Linked DNA regions of Homo sapiens: regions 1 and 3 are each linked to region 2. The links come from fine-mapping of genetic effects on gene expression. A gene starts in region 2. Each other region holds a variant in brackets. All regions are shown on one strand. Distances are between the middles of the regions. Region 1 overlaps STYXL1 (serine/threonine/tyrosine interacting like 1). Region 2 holds the start of MDH2 (malate dehydrogenase 2). Region 3 overlaps SRRM3 (serine/arginine repetitive matrix 3).

Region 1 (8,185 bases), 35 kb before region 2:
CAGTAGAGAAATCCACTCCAACTGGATAACTTGATGTTTCCATGAGGCTCTGATTAGAGACCACTTTCTCCATTATTACACCACAGAAAATGCTGACCTTTGCCAAAGATCAAAATCAGTTCCAAAAGTCCCCTGGCTCTAAGTCTGACTCAGAAATAACATTTTAAGGACCTCAGGCGTGTGGGTCCTTCAGAGCCACCTGAACTCAGCACATCTCACTCCCTTCCCCACGGCAGTGAACCCTCTGCAAGCCCACATCCTTCCCAAGCTACCAGCTTCGAAAGCCATTAGTAAAGAACAGACACCAAGCTGAGCCAGTTCTCCAGCCTGTGACACGGAGATGCATGACCCCCCACTGCCTGCGGGCAGGCCCAATTTACTCCAGCATGTGGGCTGCCCCTAACCCGGATGGACGCTCAGCTTGCTGGTGCCAAATGAAATCCCCCTTTCAATTTCCACTTAAAAATCTCGCTAAAAGGCCAGGCATGGTGGCTGATGCTTGTAATCCCAGCACTTTGGGAAGCTGAGGCAGGTGGATCACCTGAGGTCAGGAGTTCAAGACCAGCCTGGCCAACATAGTGAAACCCCATCTCTACTAAAAATATAAAAATTAGGCGTGGTGGCACACGCCTGTAATCTCAGCTACTCTGGAGGCTGAGGCAGGAGAATCACTTGAACCCAGGAGGTGGAGGTTGCAGTAAGCCCAGATTGTACCACTGTACTCCAGCCTGGGCAACAGAGATGCTATCTCAAAAAAAAACCAAAACAAAACAAAACAAAAAAAACCCCACAAAAATCCCATAGCAAATCTATCAACCCCTCTTCCTGCTGTTTTTAAACCAGCTTCCTTTTCTGCGGTTGTGTGGGTTTGGCTGGGAAGAGGGTGTGATGTGGATAAAAACACACTGTACTGTAGAATGTGTGTAAATGCTCAGTGACACAATGCAAACGAAACCAGTATCTCAAATGAATATGCCCGAACTGGGCACACTGCCTTCCCCCAAAACCACCTCCTTCTTCCCCCACCCCGCCCCCTCCCGAGTGTTCCCCAGAATGAACCACATCACAGCCCCCGTCACCCACGCCTAAAACCAGGGCATCATCCCAGCCCCCTCTCTCTCCTATGCCCTCATGTCTGATCGGTGCTACCTCCTAAATCTTTCTTTCTTCTTTTTTCTTTTTTGAGATGGAGTCTCACTCTGTCACCCAGGCTGGAGTGCAGTGGTGTGACTCAGCTCACTGCAACCTCCGCCTCCCGGGTTCAATTGATTTTCCTGCCTCAGCCTCCTGAGTAACTGGGATTACAGGCATGTGCCACCACACCCAGCTAATTTTTGTATTTTTAGTAGAGATGGGGTTTCACCATGTTGGCCAGAATGGTCTTGATCTCTTGACCTCGTGATCCGCCCGCCTTGGCCTCCCAAAATGCTGGGATTACAGGCGTGAGCCTCCAAGCCCAGCCTTTTAAAAAAATTTTTGTGTAAACAAGGTCTTACTATGTTGCCCAGGCTAGTCTCAAACTCCTGGACTCAAGTGATCCTTCCACCTCCTCTTTGACCTCCCAAAGTGCTAGGATTCCAAGCTTAAGCCACCACAGCTGGCCAGTCACCTACATTCTAAAGACAGCTGCAAACAAGTAACCCAATCCAACCCTCACAGCTACCCTAGCCACAACCCTGCGCCTTCTTCCCAATGTGACTAGACTAGGAGCAAAGGCAAGTTTCAGGAATATGCAACTGTCAAAACGGACCATACCGGGCCTTTTAAATATGTGCAGTTCATCATGTCAATTACACCTTACTAAAGCTTCAGAAATGAGGAGGTGGCAGTGATGAGTTATCAGCAGCGTAGGGTTTGCAGAGAAGAAATTAATCTCTCTGCACCCTGCAAAGCCAGGGTGCTCCTCCAAGAGCAAGGAGGAGCAAGGAGGAGTTCCAATCAAGATAAGACTTGATTCAGATTTGAGGCTGGAACATTAAACTGCCCTGGCTTATACTAGACTGATTGTCTTTACTTCCTTTATTTAACTGACTGTACACCTGTTGAGCTGAAATTCACAGTGCTGTTATCTCAGTGGAAGAAAGGGATGTCTTTGGGAGCCAGGCATGCATACCCTGGATCTGGGAACATGTCTGACCTCAGGCATGAGTCCCTGCCTTCTACGATTCCGGTGAAGGAATGTGGGCATGCGGGGCAGGGGACGGGTCATGGGCTTCCAAGTTAAGGGGAGGAAGTTGGAGGAGATGCCTGGCAGGGGTTGAAGGGAGTCACCACTGGCTGCGTTCTCTGGGAGATCCTCAGCCCCAGAAGGAGCCAGGGTGAGGCTGAGCTGGGTCCCGAGAAACCCAGCAGCAGAGGCTACCAGCAGCTCACACAGCCAGACGGGGCCAGAGAGCAGGCACTTTCCCACCACTAACACGCAGCCAGGCACACAGACAGGTCCACTCTGGGCCCTACTGCCAAAGGTACTCTGCCCAGAAGAGGGGAAGAGAGCAGCTGTCCTTAAAGCTAACCCCCATCCCTCCCTACTTTGAGTGCCCCCAGCAAACCCTAGGCTGCCCAGCTCTAGGGCATGGGAAGAGATGAGACTTGATTCAGATTTGAGGTTGGAACATTAAACCGCCCTAGCTTCTACTAGACTGTCTTTTTACTTCCTTTAACATTATTTCAAAACTATACACTAGTTGGCCAGGTGTGGTGGTTCATGCCTATAATTCCAGTACTTTGAGAGGCCAAGGCAGGAGGATTGCTTAAGGTCAGGAGTTTTGGACCAGCCTGGGGAACATAGCAAGACCCTGTATCTGCAAAAAATTTTAAAACTTAGCTGACTGTGGTGGCATGCATCTGTAGTCCCACCTACTCAAGAGGCTGAGGCTGGAGGATACCAAGCCCAGGAGGTGGAGGCTGCAGTGAGCTATGATTGCACCACTGCACTCCAGCCTGGGCAACAGAGTGAGACCCTGTCTCTAAAACGTATATATCGCCCAACTTCAAACATTAACAACTCATTGGCCAATTTTGTTTCCTCTATACCCTCACTGCCTTCTCACCTCACCCCAGATTATTTGAAAGGAAATTCCAGACATCACGTCATTTCACCCGTAAATATTTTGTTCTGTATTTCTAAAAGATAAGGACTTGTACTTTATAATAACCATAACAATGTCACTACAACCTTCGAAAAGCAACAATTCCTAAACACAGTCAAACATCCTGTGAATAGTCACATTTGCCCAGTCATTCTATACTATGATTTCGATTGAAGTTTTTTGTAACCAAAAGTGGCCAGAAAGTATGGAATCTGCTCACGATGTTGCTAAGGGCAGGAAGGGGAACACAGCTGAAGGCAACTGTTAGAAAAAGTTAAAACCACTTTCTGTTTACATTCCATTGTGTTCAGACGCTTCAATAAGCCAGACATCTGTACACGGCACTCTCCAGGGACCAGGCCCTGCCTGCAAATCTCTGCATAGTCTGGTGCTAGCCTTAGACAACTCCACCCAGTTCTCTTCCTCGAAATCTCCTCCTCCGTCAGATTTGGCTCTGGGAAGCTCAAGTGCCCCTTCTCTGGGCTCCAGATACCCGGGGCGTCCCTTGACACAGTCCAGCTTCCAGCCACTGCCTCCCCTACAGACAGGACCAGTCATCAGCAGAAACTGGAATCTCAAAATTGTTTTGTTTTGACAAAACTGACCATGAGTTGACAATGTTTGGAGCTAGGTGATGGACAAAGGGGTTTAATATCTGATTCTCTTTTTGTATTAAAAAATAGGCTGAGTGCAGTGGCTCACGCCTCTAATCCCAGCACTTTGGGAGGCTGAGGCAGGTGGATCACTTGAGGTCAGGAGCTGGAGACCAGCCTGACCAACATGGTGAAACCCTGTCTCTACTAAAAAAGAATTATAATAGAGATGGGGGTCTCACTATACTGCCCAGGCTGGTCTTGAACTCCTGAGATCAAGCAATCCTCCTGCCTTGGCCTCCCAGAGTGCTAAAACTACAGGTGTGAGTCGCCACACCTGGCTGATTTTCTTTTTGTTTTTTTTGGAGACAGGGTCTTGCTTCGTCAACCAGGCTGGAGTACAGTGGCATGGCAACGGCTCACTGCAGCCTCGACCTCCTGGGCTCAAGCAATCCACCCATCTCTTTTCTAAATTATTTTTTTGAGCCAGGGTCTCACTCTGTCACACAGGCTGGAGTGCAGTGGTGTGATCTCGGCTCCCTGCAACCTCCTCCTCCTGGGTTCAAGTAATTCTCCTGCCTCACCCTCCTGAGTAACTGGGACTACAAGACAGGTGGGCCACTATGCCCGGTGAATTTCTGTATTTTTGGTAGTCAGGGTTTTGCCATGTTGCTTAGGCTGGGCTCAAACTCCTGAGCTCAAGTGATCCATCCAGCTTGGCCTCCAAAAGTGCTGGGATTATAGGCGTGAGCCACCACAGCCAGCTCCATTTATTGATTTTTTTGTAGAGACAAGGTCTCACTATATTGCTCAGGCCGGTCTCAAAGTACTGAGCTAAAGCAATCCTCCTGCCTTGGCCTCCCCAAGTGCTAGGCTTATAGGCGTGAGCCACCGTGCCTGACCAATCCTTCCCACTTTTGTGTATTTTTGTATCCTCTGGATCCAGCTAGGATTTGTGGAATCAGACAGCCAAGAAAAAAGAGGTGGTCTCGAGCCGCCATGCCCCTGCCTTTCTGACCTTGGTATCGGTCCACCATCCAGCCTGCCCTCTGAATGGGTCCACCTTTGCTCACTGTTTCAACCCGACAGCCATCAGTTCCTTATAAAGAACTGTGGCCGGGCAGGATGGCTCACGCCTGTGATCCCAGCACTTTGGAAAGCCGAGGCAGGTGGATCACTTGAGGTCAGGAGATCGAGACCATCCTGGCTAACAGGGTGAAACCCTGTCTCTACTAAAAATACAAAAAATTAGCCGGGCGTGCTGGTGGGCGCCTGTAGTCCCACCTACTTGGGAGGCCGAGGCAGGAGAATGGCGTGAACCTGGGAGGCAGAGCTTGC[A/G]GTGAGCCAAGATGGCACCACTGCACTCCAGCCTGGGCGACAGAGCGAGACTCCGTCTCAAAAAAAAAAAAAAAAAAGTGGAGGAGATGGGGGAGACTGGGCTGCAGACATGAACTTAGGGCTGCCAGGAGTCCAGATCTAGTTTTTTTTTTGTTTGTTTTTGTTTTTGTTTTTGTTTGAGACAGTCTTACTCTGTCATCCAGGCTGGAGTACAGTGGCATGATCTTGGCTCACTGCAACCTCTGCCTCCTGGGTTCAAGCAATTCTTCTGCCTCAGCTTCCCTAGTAGCTACGACTATGGGCACGCACCACCACGCCCAGCTAATTTTTGTGTTTTTAGTATAGACAGAATCTCCTCCACTTTCTCTATATCCTCTGTCCCATCCTCCTGTTTCTCCCACTCAGTCACCCACAAGTCAGTTTCTAGGCCCATCCTTCCCGTCTGGGCCTGCCTGTGCTCAGCATTTGGCCCTACCTGAGGCATCCAGATGATCTTCTGGGTCCGGAGAAAGTGGTACGTGCCTGAGAAGCGCTCATAGCCCCCTTTCAGGATGTAGACGGGGTGGTGGGTGAGGCGGGTCAGGATCCTGCCATACTCAATGGCTGCTTGAGGCACAAGATCTGAGAGTGGAGACCAAAGACATGAATGTCTCCTGTGTATCTGCCATTGGTCTAGAGCTGGGATAGATGACCACTTTCTTCTGAAATGCAATTATTTTATTTATTTTCTGAGACAGAGTCTCACTCTGTCGCCCAGGCTGGAGTGCAGTGGTGCGATCTCGGCTCACTGCAACCTCTGCCTCCTGGGTTCAAGCGATTCTCCTGCCTCAGCCTCCCAAGTAGCTGGGACTACAGGCGCCCACCATGCCTGGCTAATTTTTTATTTTTAGTATAGACAGGGTTTCACCATGTTTGCCAGCCTGGTTTTGAACTCCTCAGCTCAGGTGATCCTTCAGCCTCGGCCTCCCAAAGTGCTGAGATTACAGGCGTGAGCCACCATGCCCGGCTTGAAATGCAATTATTTAGGAAGCTGAAGCAAGTATAGAGATGCATCATATTAAAATTTTAAAAGTAGCTTACCACCGGGTTTTTTTTGTTTTTGTTTTTGAGACTGGGCTTCACTCCATCTGGCTGGAGTGCAGTGGTACAATCTCGGCTCACTGCAACCTCCAGCTCCTGGGCTCACACCATCCTCCCACCTCAGCCTCCCGAGTAGCTGGGACTATAGGTGCGCACCACCACACCTGGCTAAATTTTGTATTGTTTTGTAGAGACAGTGTCTCACTTTTTTGCCCAGGCTTGTCTTGAACTCCTGAGCTCAAGCAATCTACCTGCCTCAGCCTCCCAGAGTGCTGAGATTACAGGTGTGCTCAGCCTAAGTTAATCTTCTTTTCTGCAAACTCTGAGATATATGTATTGTATGATGTCATACAATACATATATCTCAGAGTTTACAGAAACTGCCAGCTCGTTAACCACTCATATGCATACATATGGTTTACATATTATATACATGTATATATTATATTTATACCACATATATATGTCAACTGTATGTTGTGTATCACACAATTCACCCATTTAAAGTGTGCAATTCAAAACATATAGACCAATGGAACAAAATAGATAACCCAGAAATAAAGCCACACACCTATAACCATCTGATCTTCAACAAAGTTGACAAAAATAAGCAATGGAGGCTGGGGATGGTGGTTTACATCTATAATCCCAGAACCTTGGGAGGCAGAGGCAGGAGAATTGCCTGAGCCCAGGAGTTTGAGACCAACCTAGGCAACATGGAAAGACCCCGCCTCCACAAATAAAATTCAAAAAATTAGTTGAGTGTGGTGGCGGGCACCTGCAGTTCCAGCTACTAGAGAGGCTGAGGCAGGAGGATCACCTGAGCCAGGGAGGTTGAGGCTGTAGTGAGCAATGGTCGTGCCACTGCACTACAGCCTTGGAGACAGAACAAGACCTTGTCTCAAAGAACAGGAAAGGGGAAAGGACTCCCACTTATTGGTCAATAAATGGTACTAAGATAACTGGCTATCCATATGCAGAAGAATGAAACTGGACCCCTATCACCATATACAAAAATCAACTCAAGATAGATTAAAGACTTAAATGTAACACCTGAAAACTATAGAAATCCTAGAAGAAAATCTAGGGAATACCCTTCTTGACATTGGCCTTGGCAAATAATTTTTGGCTAAGTCCTCCAAAGCAATTGCAACAAAACAAAAATTGACAAGTGGGACCTAAGGACACGAAAGTGCTTCTGCACAGCAAGAAAAACTACCAGAGTAAACAAACAGCCTGCAGAATGGGAGAAAGTATCCACAAGCTATGCATCCAACAAAGATCCAATATCCAAAATCTATAAGGAACTGAAATCAAGAAGCAAAAACCAAACAACCTCTGATGGTTAATACTGAGTGTCAACTTGATTGGGTTGAAGGATGCAAAGTACTGATCCTGGGCGTGTCTGTGAGGGTGTTGCCAAAGGAGATTAACATTTGAGTCAGTGGACTGGGAGAGGCAGACCCACCCTCAATCTGAGTGGGCACCATCTAATCAGCTGCCAGTACAGCTACAACATAAAGCAACCAGAAATACATGAAAACACTAGACTGGCCTAGCCTCCCAGCCTACATCTTTCTCCCTTGCTGGATGCTTCCTGTCCTCAAACATTGGACTCCAAGTTCTTCAGCTTTGGGACTCACACTGGCTTCCTTGCTCCTCAGCTTGCAGACAGCCTATTGTGGGACCTTGTGATCACACGAGTTAATACTCCTTAACAAACTCCCATATATATAGATACACATGTATCTACATATACACGCATATATATACACACACATATATCTATACATATGTACATGTATAGATATAAGTATATACATATGTACATTTATAGATATATGTATATCTATACATATGTACATGTATAGGGATACATATATATAATTATGTGTGTATAGATATACGTATATCTATATGTATGTGTGTATATATGTATATCTATACATACATGTGTATATATACACGTATATCTATACATATGTGTGTATATATACACGTATATCTATACGTATGTGTGCACATATATAGCGTATATACGTATGTGTGTATATATACGTATATCTATACGTATACACATATATA
Region 2 (8,154 bases):
CTGCCTCCTGGGTTCAAGCAATTCTCCTGTCTCAGCCTCTCCAGTAGCTGGGATTACAGGCGCCCGCCACCGTGCCCAACTAATTTTTTGTATTTGTAGAGATGGGGTTTCACCATGTTGGGCAGGCTGGTCTCAAAACTCCTGACCTCAGGTGATCCACCCACCTCAGCCTCCCGAAGTGCTGGGATTACAGGCGTGAGTCACCGCACCCAGCCGAGAAGCCATTTTAAAGGAACTTTGCCCAAGAGGGCCACCGAGAGGGAAAATGGACCAATGGCATGTGGTGGAGGATTCCAGAAGCCAGGGGCTGAGGGAGGAATTGAAGCAGCAAGACTGAGATGGCCACCTGATCATGGGAACTGGAGGTAAGAAAGACCCCCAGAAGCACTGCATGGGAGAGTCAGTTACAAATTCCCATCAAGCTGAGACAGTAACAAGGCCAGATGTCGAAGGGGCTTTTCTTGCCCCATCTCTACTCTCTTATAACCCCCTCCACCAACACAGGATGCCTCAGAAGCCATAGTTGGCCTGGGCTGGGGTGGGATGGAAGAGGAAACAAAATAAACAGAAGTCAACTACTGTCCTCCTCAAATGTGGGAGCCCAAAGAAAGCTTGAGAGGGGAAGAGAAGCAGCTTTACCTTTGAATTAAATTCCTAGTTTTGATTATTAACATGAACTGGACAGTAAGTCTGTCCTAGTAACCAGACACAATCCAAGGGCAAGCAAAGATTTAAAGACAGAAAGCTGCTGCATGATTGAATTCTACTTCTTGACTGTGGAAACCCTGCTTGTTTAATATAAGTTTCACTTGCAAAACACCAAGTAAAATCAATGCCTACCACACAGTGCTTCATACAGCAGCCAATAAGACTGTTGTTAATTACCTTGGTATTTCCTTAGAGAGAGGCAGATAGGAGCTGAGTGTGAGGCTTTTTATGTTTTTTTCCTTTGAGATAAGGTCTCATTCTGTCACCCAGACTGGGGTGCAGTGGTGCAAACACAGCTCACTGCAGCCTCAAACTCCCAGGCTCAATTCTCCTGCCTTAGCTTCCTGAGTAACTGGGACCACTGGCACATACCACCATGCTTGGCTAATTTTTATTATTTGTAGACAGGGTCTCCTGTGTTGCCCAGGCTGGTATTGAACTCCTGGGCTCAAGCGATCCTCCCACCTTGGCCTTCCAGAGGGGTGGAATTACAGGCATGAGCCACTGCACTGGGCCAAATGTGAGGCTTTTCTAGCAGTCAAGTTGTTTGGGATGGCCCAAGTAGAAGGCTTGGGAGGTAGCGAGTTCCTCTTCTGTGGAGATGAGGACTTGGGAGGGATGTGGAGGAAACTGAATTCCAGATGTGGGAGGGAGCCTGACAATCTGTGATTCCAGTTTATTGCTCATGGTCTCAACTCTCCCCCTCTACAGAGGTGACTTCCGCCCTGGCCTGAGTTTCAATCCCACAGTTCCTTTTTTCCCCCCTTAAATGAGACATATCTTGCTCTGTCACCCATGTCAGAATGCAGTGGCACAATCATGGCTCACTACAGCCTTGACCTCCCCCGATCGCCTGAGCTCAAGCGATTGTTTCATGTCAGCCTCTTGGGTAGCTGGGACTACAAGCACACACCATCACGCCCAGAGAATTTTCGTACTTTTTGTAGAGATGGGGTTTTGCCATGTTACCCAGGCTGGTCCTGAATTCCTGAGCTCAAGTGATCGTCCGCCTTGGCTGCTCAAAGTGTTGGGATTACAGGCATGAACACGGCCCATACCACTGAAAGGTCTATATGGACAACTCAGCATAACTCCCAATTAAGCCCATCTAAAACGGAACTCTTTATTTTTTCTCCTCTCCTTTGGTATAACCTCCTTTATTTTTCTCCTCTCCTTTGTATAACCCGACTTCCCTCTTTATGTATTTTCCACACCTCTTTCTTTCACTCCTCAAACCCAGATGAGCACAGACTGTTACCCATTCTTCCCATGAGACTTCTCCCACACTGGCCCTACCCACTCCATTTCTATGGCCACCACCGTAATTCAGACCTTTGTCATCCATAAAATAGATTCCTAAACAATCTCCCTGAATAGATTCCTAAACAATCTCCATTTTTTTTTTCCTGGGAATTCTTAGCATACAAGGTCAGTCTAATCTTCCTCAAACACAGTTCTGGCAGTGTCACAAAAGCCTGATTGGCCAGGTGCAGTGGCTCACGCCTATAATCCCAGCACTTTGAGAGGCTGACTCGGGCAGATCACTTGAGGTTAGGAGTTCTAGACCAGCCTGGCCAACATGACAAATCCCTGTCTCTGCTAAAAATACAAAAATTAGCCAGGTGTGGTGGTGCACACCTGTAATCCCAGCTACTTGGGAGGCTGAGGCAGGAGAACTGCGTGAACCCGGAGGTGGAGGTTGCAGTGAGCCGAGATCGCGCCACTGCACTGCAGCCTGGGCAACAGCGTGAGGCTCCATCTCAAATAAATAAACAACCTTTGATAAACACTTGCTTCCCAAGAAATGAAATACAAACTTCTCAGCTAACATTCATGGGACCGGCACAATCTAGTTTTTCCCAACCTGCTGTTTCCAGCTGTACCTAAAACCACTCAACTCTCCACAAATTCACTGAGGCCCTTTCAGCCCAGTCGCATGTTGGACAAAAAAAACAGAAGAAAGACTTAGTACCTGGCAAGACTTAATACCTGGCTCTGAGGTGCTCTCAGTTACAAGACAGAGGAGTAAATAATTACCAGAAGATGCAGTCAGTGATAAGATAAACAAAGGACACTGCTTGCCCTAATGTCCCCACTCCAAAATAAATGATCTATTCACTGTCCCCTGAATACTGGCCTATGCTTATTTTTTCCCGCTAGGATTTTATTTGGCCTTTTTTCTCCTCCTTTCCTGTCTAAACATTTCCCATTGTTAAATGCTCAGGCCCTAGTGCCCCTCCTTTGAGAATTCTGATTCCAAGGCAAGGGATCTTTCCCTCCTCTGGAGTTGAATGTTCCATTGAGAAACACCTACTCTTCCAGCATGTCTCAGCTTATCTGCTGTGTGTGTGTGTGTGTGTGTGTGTGTGTGTGTGTGTGTGTGTGTGTGTGTGTGTGTGTGTGTGTGCGCGCGCGCGCGCGCGCGCTTTTGAGCCGGAGTTTAGCTCTTATCACCCAGGATGGAGTACAATGGCACAATCTTGGCTCACAGCAACCTCCACCTCCTGGGTTCAAGGGATTCTCCTGCCTCAGCCTCCTGAGTAGCTGGGACTACAGGCACACGCCACCATGCCCAGCCAATTTTTGTATATTTAGTAGAGATGGGGTTTCGCCACATTAGCCAGTCTGGTCTCAAACTCCTGACCTCAGGTGATCTGCCCGCCTTGACCTCCCAAAGTGCTGGGATTACAGGCATAAGCCACCACACCCGGCTTTTTTTTTTTTTTTTTTTGAGACAGAGTCTTTCTCCGTCGCCCAAGCTGGAGTACAGTGGGGTTATCTCGGCTCACTGCAACCTCCCTCCACCTCCCGGGTTCAAGCGATTCTCCTGCCTCAGCCTCCGGAGTAGTTGGGGCTACAGGTGTACACCACCACGCTGGGCTAATTTTTGTATTTTTAGTAGAGATGGGGTTTCACCATGTTAGCCAGGCTGGTCATGAACTCCTGGCCTCAAGTGATCGGCCCGCCTCAGCCTCCCAGAGTGCTGGGATTACAGGCATGAGCCACCTTGCCTGGGGGTGTTGTTTAATTTTAAAAATATGTATCAGGCCGGGCGCGGTGGCTCACGCCTGTAATCTCAGCACTTTGGGAGGCCGAGGCGGGTGGATCACGAGGTCAGGAGTTCGAGACCAGCCTGACCAACGTGGTGAAACCCCGTCTCTACTAAAAAAAAAATACAAAAAATTAGCCAGGTGTAGTGGTGCGCTAATCCCAGCTACTCAGGAGAATGAGGCAGGAGAACCACTTGAACCTGACAGGCAGAGGTTGCAGTGAGCCAAGATCGCGCCACTGCACTCCAGCCTGGGCTAGAGAGACTCCGTCTCAAAAAAATAAATAAATTCATACATTTAAGTAATAAACTCATTGTGAGCAAGGAATTCTACTCGACTTTCTGTCTGCGTAAACTCTACAAATCCACTTGGCCTCAGCCACAGTGTCTTTATTCGTAAAGCAGAAACAGTGGGACCGTCAGAGCACTGCCGGGCAGGCGAGAGAAGACAGGAACTGTATGACCACGGAAGTTGTTGTCCCTACAACCTATTTGCTCATCTGGAACACAGAATAGTGGTCCTCTAAAGCTTGCAGGGCTGGAGGTCGCCATTATCAGCAGTGGTGTCACTAAACCTGAACCCAAGGGTCTCTGCAACTTGGGAAACGACGGCCCGGATCTGAGGAGATGGCCCCTTCCTCCCACCCCGCCTAAGGACTCTCAGCCTCCCTGACCCTACCTTTCCGGAGCTCAGAGTCCCCTCTGGCCTCCAAGGGCAGAAGGAATGGGTTTGGCTGAGGTCGGGGGCTCGGGTCTGGGACGCGCTCCACCTCCCCGGCTGCGCGACTATGGCCAGGCTCCCTGTCGGAGCCTCTGCCTGGGGCCCCACCTGGAAAAATGGCTCCTCTAAGGCGCTTCCAGCCTAAAGCCCGTCCTCTTCCACCTCTTGGGTGCAGACTGGCCCTCCCACTCCGACCGCAGGTCCCCCACCGGCCACACAGACGGCTACGCTAGAACCCAGCCAAACACCGGGGTTGCCAGGATGGTCCCACAGCTTTCCTTTCCGACTCCCGGAAGTGGCCGTGATCTCACGAGATCCCGGAGGCGAGCGCGACCGGAAGTCCGGTCACTCTCGCGAGGCCCCAGAGAGCAGGCGCTGGGCAGTGTGGAGGTCGTTGGAGTCACTTCCCCGTCACCAGCTCCTGTGCCTGCCAGTCGGTGCCCCTCCCGCTCCAGCCATGCTCTCCGCCCTCGCCCGGCCTGCCAGCGCTGCTCTCCGCCGCAGCTTCAGCACCTCGGCCCAGGTAGGCCAGACGAGGGGCGGCCTGCAGGCGGAGGCCCCCCGGCCCGGGCCACGTGCGTCCCCGGTTCGCGGGCAGCTCTGACCCTCTCCAGGCCAGCCTGGACCGCAGGGATGCCCGGCACTGGCTGGAGACTGTGGCGCCCGGGGCAGGCCCTGACACTGGCCTGGAGGTGCGGGGGAGAAAGCCGGGGAAAAGGGGGCGAGGTAGTCCCGCTCCAGGGCCGGTCCATTTGTCAGGGTTCCCCCAGGTCTCCCAGATTTCCCAGAGGACCTGCTCTTGGCTTGCACGCCTTCAAGGTTGGGAAACCAGGGCTCTGCATCTGAAAGTAAACTTACGTTTTTTTCTGCAGCGTTCCATTGCTTTGACGTAGCTAATCTCCTTGCAGCATCCGTGTGAGTTGTGCGTGAATAAAAGAAATCGTATACTTCCTAATTCCATAGTATGGACAAACCGAGGCTAGAGAACTGGGCCAGGGTTACAGTCATTTGGCCAGAGGATTAGAATTCAGCGCTTCTGACCTGAAGACGGCTTCCTCTTAACCTTTTTGGAGGATCTCTCCTGCTGTGGGCGGACTGAGCCTGCCGCCAGGTGTCTTAACAGTGCTTGACTTGGCCCGCGACCACTTAAGCCTAGGAGCCTAGGCTATTTTTAGCCATCTTCTAGAATGGTGGTTCTTAAACTCTGCAGTGTGTCAGAATCACCAGAAAGCTAATAAAAAACAGACGTCTGGGTTCATTGAAGAAGCTTAAGACTGCGGGGGGGGGGGGGGGGGTCCGCATTTTTACCAGGTGAATCTAATTAAACCTAATTTTGAGAACCCAGGAGGTGCTCGCATTGCCTTTTAATTACGACGCCCAAGAGGGAGGTAATTTTAAAGGGGAATCCAAATTTATCATCGAAGTTCTCGAGTTTCCTGTACATCCAGTTCATTTGAAAAATAAATACAAATGCTCCTGGATTGATGGCTACTTCCCATACCCATCGCAAGTTGGTAATATCCTAAGTCAAAAGGCGAGTTTAACTTTGTGTATTTTCAACTTGCAATGGGTTCCCACAGGCAACCCCATTGTAAGTTGAATGTACCAAATGCTTTTGCGCTGCGGTGAAGTGGGGGCCCAGCTGTATACAGATAAGTACATTAAGTACCTGTGCTTGCCAACAACTATGCTGGGTGCTGCAGGGGATACCAAGATAAGTGAGAAGTGACACTTGATATGGGACAGGAATGAGTAAACTTAGGACAGGTGGAAGCGATGAAGGTCTTAGGGAATGAGTAAACTTAGGACAGGTGGAGGCGATGAAGGTCTTAGGGAATGAGTAAACAGGACAGGAGGGATGAGGTGTGGGGGAGGGGCAGCCAACCAAAGAGAGGACAGGGGTGTCCAGGGAGAGGTTGAGTTTTGGTAGGACCTTCAGATATCCGACATATTTATTGAGCTAGGTACTGGAAATACAGCGGTGAACAAAACACAGAAGTCCCTGCTCTCACGGAAATTACTAGATATTTTACTTATTGCCCCACTCATTATAAAGTATCTTAAAATAGTGATGAACATGCAAGAAAAATGGGGATTGTAGGGTGCTTGTGTTAGGGAAGAGGGTACCAATTTTATTTACTTTTTTTGATGCAGTGCCTCGCCCTGTCGACAGGCTGGAGTGCAGTGGCGTGATCTCGGTTCACTGCAGCCTCCACCTCCCAGGTTGGAGCGATTCTCCTGCCTCAGCCTCCCGAATAGCTGGGACTACAGGCGCGCACCACCGTGCCCAGCTAATTTTTGTGTTTTTAGTAGAGATGGGGTTTCACCATGTTGGCCAGGATGGACCTGACAGAGTCCCACTCTGTTGCCCAGGATGGAGTGCAGTGGCGCCATCTTGGCTCACTGCAACCAACTCTTGGGCTCAAGCTATCCTCCTGCCTCATCCTCCCGAGTAGGTGGGAATCACAGGCAAGGGCTACGACAGCTGGGTAATTTTTGTAGTTTTAGTAGAGATGGGGTTTCACCATGTTGGCCAGGCTGGTCTCAAACTCCTGGCCTTAAGTGATCCACCCTCCTTGGCCTCCCAAAGTGCTGGGATTACAGGCGTGAGCCACCACTCCCAGCCGAGGGTAGCAGTTTTACATCAGCCAGGGTAGGCCTCACGCAGAGTGAGATGTTTGAGTAAAGTCTGAAGGAAGCAGAGATCACATCATATGGAAAGAGTATTGCAGGTAAGGGATATGTCTCAGGATGTAGCTGAGAGCCCTTGGAGAAGCATGGGGCATGCCTTGAAGGTTTGAGAAAATGAGGCTAGGGTAGTTCCAGAGAAGGCAGTGGAGGTAACAGAACAGGCCTTGTAAAACTTTGGTATTTTCTCAGAAATGGGGCGGCCAGTTGAGGGTTTTCAGCTGCGTAATGACTTGCTCTTCCTTCCATTTTAACAAGATGGTCTTAGGAGTGAGAGAAAGGTAGGTTAGGAGTTCATTGTGGTTATCTAGGTGCAGGTGGTAAGAAATGATTGAATTCTGGGTATTCATTGATGGTACCAGAAGGATTTGCTGATGTGTGATTAGATAAGGGGTCGGGGATGACACCAAGGTTTTGGGCCTTGGAGTTGGGCTGAAATAGGCAAGACTTATAGAAGAGAGTGGGTTTAACCAGGGAGAAGATATCAGGAGTTCAGTTTTTATTTATTTACTGAGAGTCTCGCTCTGTTGCCCAGGCTGGAGTACAGTGGCGTGATCTCGGCTCACTGCAGCCTCCGCCTCCTGGGTTCAAGTGGTTCTCTCACCTCAGCCTCCTGAGTAGCTGGGATTACAGGTGCTGCCACCACGCCCAACTAATTTTTTTTTGTATTTTCAGTAGAGATGGGGTTTCGCCATGTTGGCCAGGCTGGTCTCAAACTCCTGACCTCAGGTGATCCACCTGTCTTGGCCTCCCAAGGTACTGGGATTATAGACGTGAGCCACCACACCCGGCCAGGATCTCAGTTTTTCATATGTTCAATTTAAAATGCCTGTTGGGCATACAAGCGACATTGTTGAGAAGGCAGCTGATGAAAGCAGAAAGAAAGATGGGCTTGAGCCCATGGTGCAGTGGTCTCCAGACTTTGGATTTTTTTTTTTTTTTTTTTTGAGACGGAGTTCCGCTCTTGTTGCCCAGGCTGGAGTGCAAT
Region 3 (8,185 bases), 190 kb after region 2:
ACAGGGGCCACCATCTCTGAGGAGCTTAGGAAGACCCCCAGGCTTAGGCAGAGACAGCGAGTTGCTGAAGGCCATCCGGAAGGCGGGGGGCCAAGGCGGAGCCAGGATCAAGAGCCCTGCTGGCTGCCAGGCAAGGCTGCTTGTAGGGAGAAGAAGGGGTAATGGGGACCTGATGCTCACCTCACCCAGAGGACCAGGTAGCGGGGAGGAGGCCCCTTGCAGAGAGGGATGGATGGATGGATGGCAGGATGCTGAGGACACACACAAAGGAGGTTCCAGCTGGCAAGGGAACATGTTGATGAGCTGTGGGTACCGGAAGAGGGAATGAGATCTCAAGGGGCAGGGGCAAGGAGGGGCGAGGTGGGGAGCATCTCCTACAGTGAGAACCTCAGGTCGTGAATTAAACCGGCAAATCCAGCCAGATTCGGTGGCTCACGGCTGTACCAGCTCACGTGGCTCCCGGCACTTTGGGAGGCCGAAGTGGGCAGATCGCTTGAGGTCAGGAGATCGAGACCAGCCTTGCCAACATGGTGAAACCCCATCTCTACTAGTAATACAAAAAAATTTAAAAGGCCAGGTGCGGTGGCTCACGCCTGCAATCACAGCACTATGGGAGGACAAGGCGGGCAGATCGTGAGGTCAGGAGATCGAGATCATCCTGGCAAACACAGTGAAACCCCATCGCTACTAAAAATACAAAAAATTAGCCGGGCATGGTGGCATGCACCTCTAGTCCCAGCTGCTCAGGAGGCTGAGGCAGGAGAATCGCTTGAACCCGGAGGCGGAGGTTGCACTGAGCTGAGATTGTGCCACTGCACTCCAGCCTGGGTGACAGAGCAAGACTCCGTCTCAAAATAAAAATAAAAATAAATTAGCCAGGCATGGTGACGAGCGCCTGTAGTCCCAGCTACTCGGGAGGCTGAAGCAGGAGAATCGCTTGAACCCGCGAAGCAGAGGTTGCAGTGAGCCAAGATTGCGCCACTGCACTTCAGCCTGAGCAACGGAGGGAGACTCCATCTCAAAACAAAACAAAAACAAACACACAAACAAAACCTGCAAATTCTGCGAAATTCTGTCTGGAGAGTCAAGGAGGGAGGGGAGTGTGGGCAGAGGACAAGAGGGTTGACAGGGACAGACAAGGTGTTCCCTGCACTTTCCTGCTCCTCCTCCTCCCAGAACTCCACCTCCTTGATGAACCCATCCCCATCCTCAGCCCCTCTCCCTTCACTAAGTCCCCTCCTCTTCTCTGTACTTTCCCATCCTGAAAGCCCTCCCCCTCAAAGACCTTCACCCTTTCAAGGAACCTTCCCTCACTGAGCCCCTCCCCAAGCAAAAGGTGATGGCATTTGGCCACGTCCTGGGTGTAAGACCCCCAGCATCAAGGATCCTTGCTTCCCTGGGAAGCACCCACTATGTCCCCACTTGCTCAGTCAGGGTCCCTTCCCCCACCCAAGCTCTCACTTGAGGTGGTCCTTATCCTGGAGCCACCTCTGAAAAACCAGCTCTTGAATGGCCCTCCCCCTGCCCTCCCCATCCTCAGCAGGGCATTTGATCATGGCAGGGACAGGCATTCTGAGACTCCCAAATCCAGGCTTCCAGCCCTATCTTGACCTTGAACAAGCCACGGTTTACTCACCTGGAAAATAGGGGCACCTGTGTTCTGGAGCTGTTCTGAGAGTCCTCCGTTGAAGACACACATGGGACTGCCCAGCCCCCAGCCAGTCCTCACAAAGTGCCAGCAAACACCAGGCACCCCTGCTCTTTTATCAAATCGAGTCATTAATATCCATTTCTAGAAACACTGGTTCAGTCCCGTTTATTTACCGGGTTCTCGGGCATTTGACAAATATTCACATCAGTCACAGGAACACACACTCTTTGGCCTCATTAAAAAGCAATCCTTTTCCTTAATATTGATGGCTGGCTGGCTAATCCACTGGTGATTGATGGCGTACTTGGAGTCACCTTCCCAGACAGCCTTGGCTTGCAGTCTGCAATCACCGCGGGGCGGGACGGAGCCTCCAGCCTTTCTGACGAGATGCTCCCACCCCAGCCCCCAGCATCCTCCCTGCCACCCTGTTTATCTTCTTGCCATGCCTCTTTTTTAGTTTGTTTGTTTCGTTTGAGATGGATTCTCGCTGTGTCACCCAGGCTGGAGTGCAGTGGCATGTTCTCTGCTCACTGCAACCTCTGCCTCCTGGGTTCAAGTGATTCTCCTGCCTCAGCCTCCTGAGTAGATGGGATTACAGGCACATGCCACCACACCTGGCTAATTTTTGTACTTTTTAGTAGAGACGGGGTTTCACCATGTTGGCCAGGCTGGTCTTGAACTCCTGACCTCAAGTAAGCCACCTGCCTTAGCCTCCCAAAATGCTGGGATTACAGGCATGAGCCACCATGCCCAGACGCCATGCCTCTTCTTGTAAGGACTTGGGTGAGGCGACAGAGCACAGCTCCATCCCTAGCTAGTCTTGGAGCTTTGTTTGTTTTTCCCTTAGGCGGAGTTTCACTCTTGTTGCCCAGGCTGGAGTGAAATGGCACGATCTCGGCTTACTGCAACCTCCACCTCCCAGGTTCAAGCCATTCTCCTGCCTCAGCCTTCCGAGTAGCTGGGACTATAGGAGCACGCCACCACACCCAGCTAATTCTTTGTATTTTTAGTAGAAACGGGGTTTCACCATGTTGGCCAGGCTGGTCTCGAACTCCTGACCTCAGATGATCCACCCACCTCGGCCTCCCAAAGTGCTGGGATTACAGGTGTGAACCACCGCACCCAGCCTAGGCTTGGAGTTTTGAGCCCTCCCTCCCCTCTCCCTGTTCTGTTTGCTCATCTATAAAATGGGAATCAAAAGGCTACCATTCCAGCCGCTGTGGCTCATGCCTATAATCCCAGCACTCTGGGAGGCTGAGGAGGGAGCACTTGAGCCCAGGAGTTTGAGACCAGCATGGCAACATAGTGAGCCCCCTGCCAATCCACCTACAAAAAAAAATTTTTTTAACTAGCCAGGTGTGGTGGCACATGCCTGTGGTCCCAGCTACTCAGAAGGCTGAGGTGAGAGGATTACTTAAGCCTGAGAAGTCGAGGCTGCAGCGAGCTATGATTGCACCACTGCACTCCAGACTGGGTGGCAGAGCAAGACCCCATCTAAAAACAAAAAACAAAAACAAAAACAAAAACAAAACAAAACAAAAGGTCACTGTCTGGCCTAATGTAGGAATTCATGCCTGTAATCCCAGTACTTTGGCAGGCCAAGGCAGAAGGTTTTCTTAAGGCCAGGAGGCCTGGGCAACATAGGGAGACCCTGTCTGTACCAAAAGATAAAAAATTGCTGGGCGTGGTGGCTCATGCCTGTAATCCCAGCACTTTGGGAGGCCAAGGTAGGTGGATCACCTGAGGTCAGGAGTTCGAGACCAGCCTGGCCAACATGATGAAACCCCATCTCTACTAAAAATACAAAACAATTAGCCAGGTGTGGTGGTGGACGCCTGTAATTCCAGCTACTCAGGAGGCTGAGGCAGGAGAATCGCTTGAACCCAGGAGGTGGAGATTGTAGTGAGCTGAGATCACGCCATTGCAATCCAGCCTGGGCAACAAGAGTGAAACTCTGTCTCAAATAATAATAACAATAATAATAATAATAATAATTAGCTGGTCATAGTGGCACACTCCTGTAATCCCAGCACTTTGGGAGGCTGACGTGAGAGAATTGCTTGAGGCCAAGAGTTTGAGACCAGCCTGTGTAACATAGCAAGACTCCATTTCTACTTTTAAAAATTAAAAATAGGCCGGGTGCATTGGCTCATGCCTGTAATCCCAGCACTTTGGGAGGCCGAGGCGAGCAGATCACGAGGTCAGGAGATCGAGGCCATCCTGGCTAACACGGTGAAACCCCTTCTCTACTAATAATACAAAAAATTAGCCGGGTGTGGTGGCAGGTGCCTGTAGTCCCAGCTACTCAGGAGGCTGAGGCAGCAGAATGGCGTGAACCCGGGAGGCGGAGCTTGCAGTGAGCCGAGATTGCGCCACTGCACTCCAGCCTGGGCAACAGAGCGAGACTCCATCTCAAAAAAAAAAAAAAAAAACATTTTTCACTCTGAGGAACTCTTAAAATTCAGTGTCCCCTCACCCTACTCCTGTCCCAGAGAGCGACCCAGGAAATCCCCAAAGCCACAATGCATTTGGCATGCCCTTCCCTTATGGCCCATAGAGTGGCATGAGGACTAAGGGAGCCAGACTGGCTGGGGGAACACGTGGGCCAAGAGGCTGGGGACCCTGGGACAGACATCACTGCCCCCTATTCCCCCTTCCCCACCCACACACAAGCCCTTGACGTTGTTTTTTTGGTTTTTTGTTTTTTTCAAGACAGAGTCTCCCTCTGTCACCCAGGCTGGAGTGCAATGGC[G/A]CCATCTTGGCTCACTGCAACCTCCGCCTCCCAGGTTCAAGCGATTCGTCCTGCCTCAGCCTGCCAAGTAGCTGGGATTACAGGTGTATGCCACCATGCCCAGCTAATTTTGTATTTTTAGTAGAGATGGGGTTTCACCATGTTGGCCAGGCTGGTCTCAAACTCCTGACCTCAAGTGATCTGCCCGCCTCGGCCTCCCAAAGTACTGAGATTGCAGGCATAAGCCACTGTGCCCGGCCTAGAAACCCTTGACTTTGAGTTTGAAGCTTTGGCCATGCTAGCCAGCCTTCCTGCATGGCCCTAGGCTGGCCGGCTCTGCCACCTCCACAGGGAGCAAGTGGTTTGGGTAGCAGCCTCCCCCTTTATCCCAGCCTTTGCCTCCTGGCAGAACAGACAGAGAAGAGGCCCAGGCAATTCTCGGAGCTGGTGCCATGCCAACCTGGCAGGGGTCTCAGATGGAAAAGGGCAGGGAGCCTGGGATGACTGTACACTCTGTCCCCACTGCTCTGGGACAGATAAGCTTCAGTTGCTACTATTTATTTATTTACTTATTTATTTATTTTTGAGACAGAGTCTCACTCCATTGCCCAGGCTGGAGTGCAATGGCGCAATCTCAGCTCACTGCAACCTCTGTCTCCTGGGTTCAAGTGATTCTCCTGCCTTGGCCTCCCGAGTAGCTGGGACTACAGGCACGCACCACCACGCCCAGCTGATTTCTGTATTTTTAGCAGACACAAGGTTTTATCATGTTTGCCAGGCTGGGGTCAAACTCCTGACTTCAAGTGATCCACCCACCTTGGCCTCCCAAAGTGCTGGGATTACAGGCATGAGCCACTGTGTCTGGCCAGTTGCTACCATTCATTGAGCACCTACTATATGCCAGGCACTGTGCAAAGTGATGTAAATACATCACGTCTGTGTTAGCCCACTTTGCATTGCTCTAAAGGAAAACTTGAGGCTAGGTAACTTATAAAGAAAATAAGTTTACTTGGCTCACGGTTCTAGAGGCTTGTACAGAAGCATGGCGCTGGCATCCAATTGGCTTCTGGTGAGGCCTCAGGAAGCTTTTAGTCATGATGGAAAAGAAGGGGAGCCAGCATGTCTCACATGGCACCAGAGGGAGAAAGAGGGAGAGGAGAGACACCCCAGACTCCTTAAAACAATCAGCTCTTTCCTAAACTAATAGAGCAGCAGTCTCCGACCTTTTCAGCACCAGATACCAGTTTTGTGGAAGAAAATTTTTCTGGCTGGGCGAGGTGGCTCACGCCTGTAATCCCAGCACTTTGGGAGGCTGAGGTGGGTGGATCACCTGAGGTCGGGAGTTCGAGACCAGCCTGACCAACATGGAGAAACTCCATTTCTAGTAAAAATACAAAAATTAGCTGGGCGTGGGGGCGCATGCCTGTAGTCCCAGCTGCTTGGGAGGCTGAGGCAGGAGAATCGCTTGAACCGGGGAGATGGAGGTTGTGGTGAGCCGAGATTGCACCTTTGCACTCCAGCCTGAGCAACAGGAATGAAACTCTGTTTCCCAAAAAAAAAAGAAAATTTTTCCATGGACTAGGCGGGGTGGTGGGGGGATGGTTTCAGGATGATTCAAGCACATTGCATTTATTGTGCACTTTATTTCTATTATTATTAGACTGTATTATGTAATGAAATAATTCTACAACTCACCATCATGTAGAGTCCGTGGGAGCCCTGAGCTTGTTTTCCTGCAGCTAGACAGTCCCATCTGGGGTGATGGGAGACAGTGACAGATCATCAGGCATTAGATTCTCACAAGGAGCGTGCAACCTACATCCCTCGCATGCGCAGTTCACAACAGGGTTCCCACTCCTATGAGAATCTAATGCCACCACTGATCTGATAGGAGGTGGAGCTCAGGTGGTAATGGGAGTGATAGGGAGCAGCTATAAATACAGGTGAAGCTTTGCCCCCTTGCCTGCTCCTCACCTCCTGCTGTGCAGCCTGGTTCCTAATAGGCCACAGAGTGGTACCCCAACCTGAGGTATCAGCAACCTCTGTAATAGAGTGAGAACTCACTCATGGCCATGGGGAGGGCACCAAGCCATTCTTGAGGGATCCACCCCCATGACCCAAACACCTCCCACCAGACCCCACCTCCAACACTGAGGATCACATTTCAACATGAGATTGGGAGGGGACTAATATCCAGATGACAACCTTGAAAGGTGGGTCCTGTTCCCATTTCACAGATTAGAAGCTAAGGCTGGGAGAAGCACATGGACTTGCCCAAGGCCACAGAACTGGGAAGTGGGAGGTGCCAGGATTCAAAAGCAGGACTGTTGGGCTCCTCTGTCTCTCCCCGTCATCACTGTCCCAAGTGGCTCAGCTGAGAAGATTGATTCCAAGAGATAAGAGGGGAAAGGACACTCAGAGGTGGTGGTCACATGAGACCAATCACCAGGTGTCATCCTTGTGTCCCCAGCTTCTCCCAACAAGATACCCTGGGGCACAGAGGGACCCTCCCCAAGCCTCTGAGTTGGTTCAATCCAGCAGCCCATCCTCAACAGACAGGTGCTGGAGTTCATCAACTTGCCTCCAGCCCACTGACTCCAGGACGACCCCCAGCCCTGCATATATGCCGCTGCAGGTCTCCCTGAAACCCATTTGTGCCCATTTCCCAGCCTTCCATGTGCCAAAGACCCCCAGGAAAGGGGGCTTGGATCCTGGCCTGAAACCCCCTGCCAGCCCCCCACAAGCAGCTGGGGAATGGCCCACCCTCACCCTTAGGCCATCTCTTCCCACCCACCTGGCCCAGGGTCCCATGCCAGTCTCTGTCTCCCTCTGTGGGGCCTATAAATTAGGGGCTAAGCAGTGTTGGAGGGCCTGTGCTGTGTTTGTCTCTGTGCTGGTGACAGTGACAAGCTAGTCTCTGCAAGAGAAGGTGATGTGGGAGCAATTGCTCTCTGCCTCTGCTGGGGGGGTGGGGCACCACCCTTTCTTCCTGGGTGCCAGGCTCTGCACTGCCCAACTCACATGCCCAGACAAGGGACCTCCAGGTGAATGCCCGAGTCTGAGGGCCACACAGGGACTGAGGTGGACACTGAGGAGCCAGGGCCCTGAACTTGGTGGAGCTAGGTTGGTGGCAGCAGTGCAGGGTGGCCTGAGCCACGAGGGGATGGGGGGTTAGAAGAAAAGCCCCCCACCCCTAACCAGGCCAGGACCCAGCCCTCCCCACGGTGAGCGACACAGCAGGCTGAACCCACACAGACTCCGACCCTAGCTGGGGGTCAGGGGACACCTGCTTAAGAAGTAGGTGGTGACCAGGCACAGTGGAACATGCCTGTAATCCCAGCACTTTGGGAGGCCGAGGTGGGTGGATCATCTGAGGTCAGGAGTTTGAGACCAGCCTGGCCAACATGGTGAAACCCCATCTCTACTAAAACTACAAAAATTAGCTGGGCATGGTGGCGGATGCCTGTAGTCCCAGCTACCCGGGAAGCTAAGGAGGAGAATTGCTTGAACCTGGGAGGCAGAGGTTGCAGTGAGCCGAGATTGTGCCACTGCACTCTAGCCTGGGCGACAGAGCAAGACTCCATCTCAAAAAAAAAAAAAAAAAAAAGTTGAAGAAGAAGAAGAAGTAGGTGATGCTTCTTACCCAACCAGACCTCCTGACTCATTCAATTGGTCCCCAAGTCCCATCCCTCTGACTCAACCGATTGGTCCCCAAGCCATCTCCCTCCTAGAGGGCTTTTTGTCCATTTCTCGCCCTTCATCCTCAAGACCTCTCTCCCTGCTCTGGAGTCACTGTCTCCTCC

Evidence for each region.
Region 1: its variant is fine-mapped to the expression of MDH2 in skeletal muscle (GTEx, PIP 0.97).
Region 3: its variant is fine-mapped to the expression of MDH2 in skeletal muscle (GTEx, PIP 0.98).

What each region holds. Positions count from the first base shown.
Region 1 is chr7:76,008,247-76,016,431 of GRCh38, forward strand. It overlaps STYXL1 (serine/threonine/tyrosine interacting like 1), which reads right to left. Exons shown (of 9, transcript NM_001317785.2): 5 at 5,496-5,641. Among named protein-coding and RNA genes, the nearest start is that of TMEM120A, 18 kb to the left of the region's middle. RefSeq lists an enhancer at 240-419. The variant A/G (reference allele first, on the strand shown) is at 5,021.
Region 2 is chr7:76,043,226-76,051,379 of GRCh38, forward strand. It overlaps MDH2 (malate dehydrogenase 2), which reads left to right and starts at 4,881. Exons shown (of 9, transcript NM_005918.4): 1 at 4,881-5,001. The coding sequence starts at 4,936. STYXL1 (serine/threonine/tyrosine interacting like 1) reads right to left here and starts at 4,775. Exons shown (of 9, transcript NM_001317785.2): 1 at 4,437-4,775. RefSeq lists enhancers at 4,248-5,030, 4,476-4,565, 4,676-4,755, 5,031-5,812 and a silencer at 5,006-5,165.
Region 3 is chr7:76,236,555-76,244,739 of GRCh38, forward strand. All of the region lies in intron 2 of SRRM3 (serine/arginine repetitive matrix 3), which reads left to right. Among named protein-coding and RNA genes, the nearest start is that of SRRM3, 39 kb to the left of the region's middle. The variant G/A (reference allele first, on the strand shown) is at 4,404.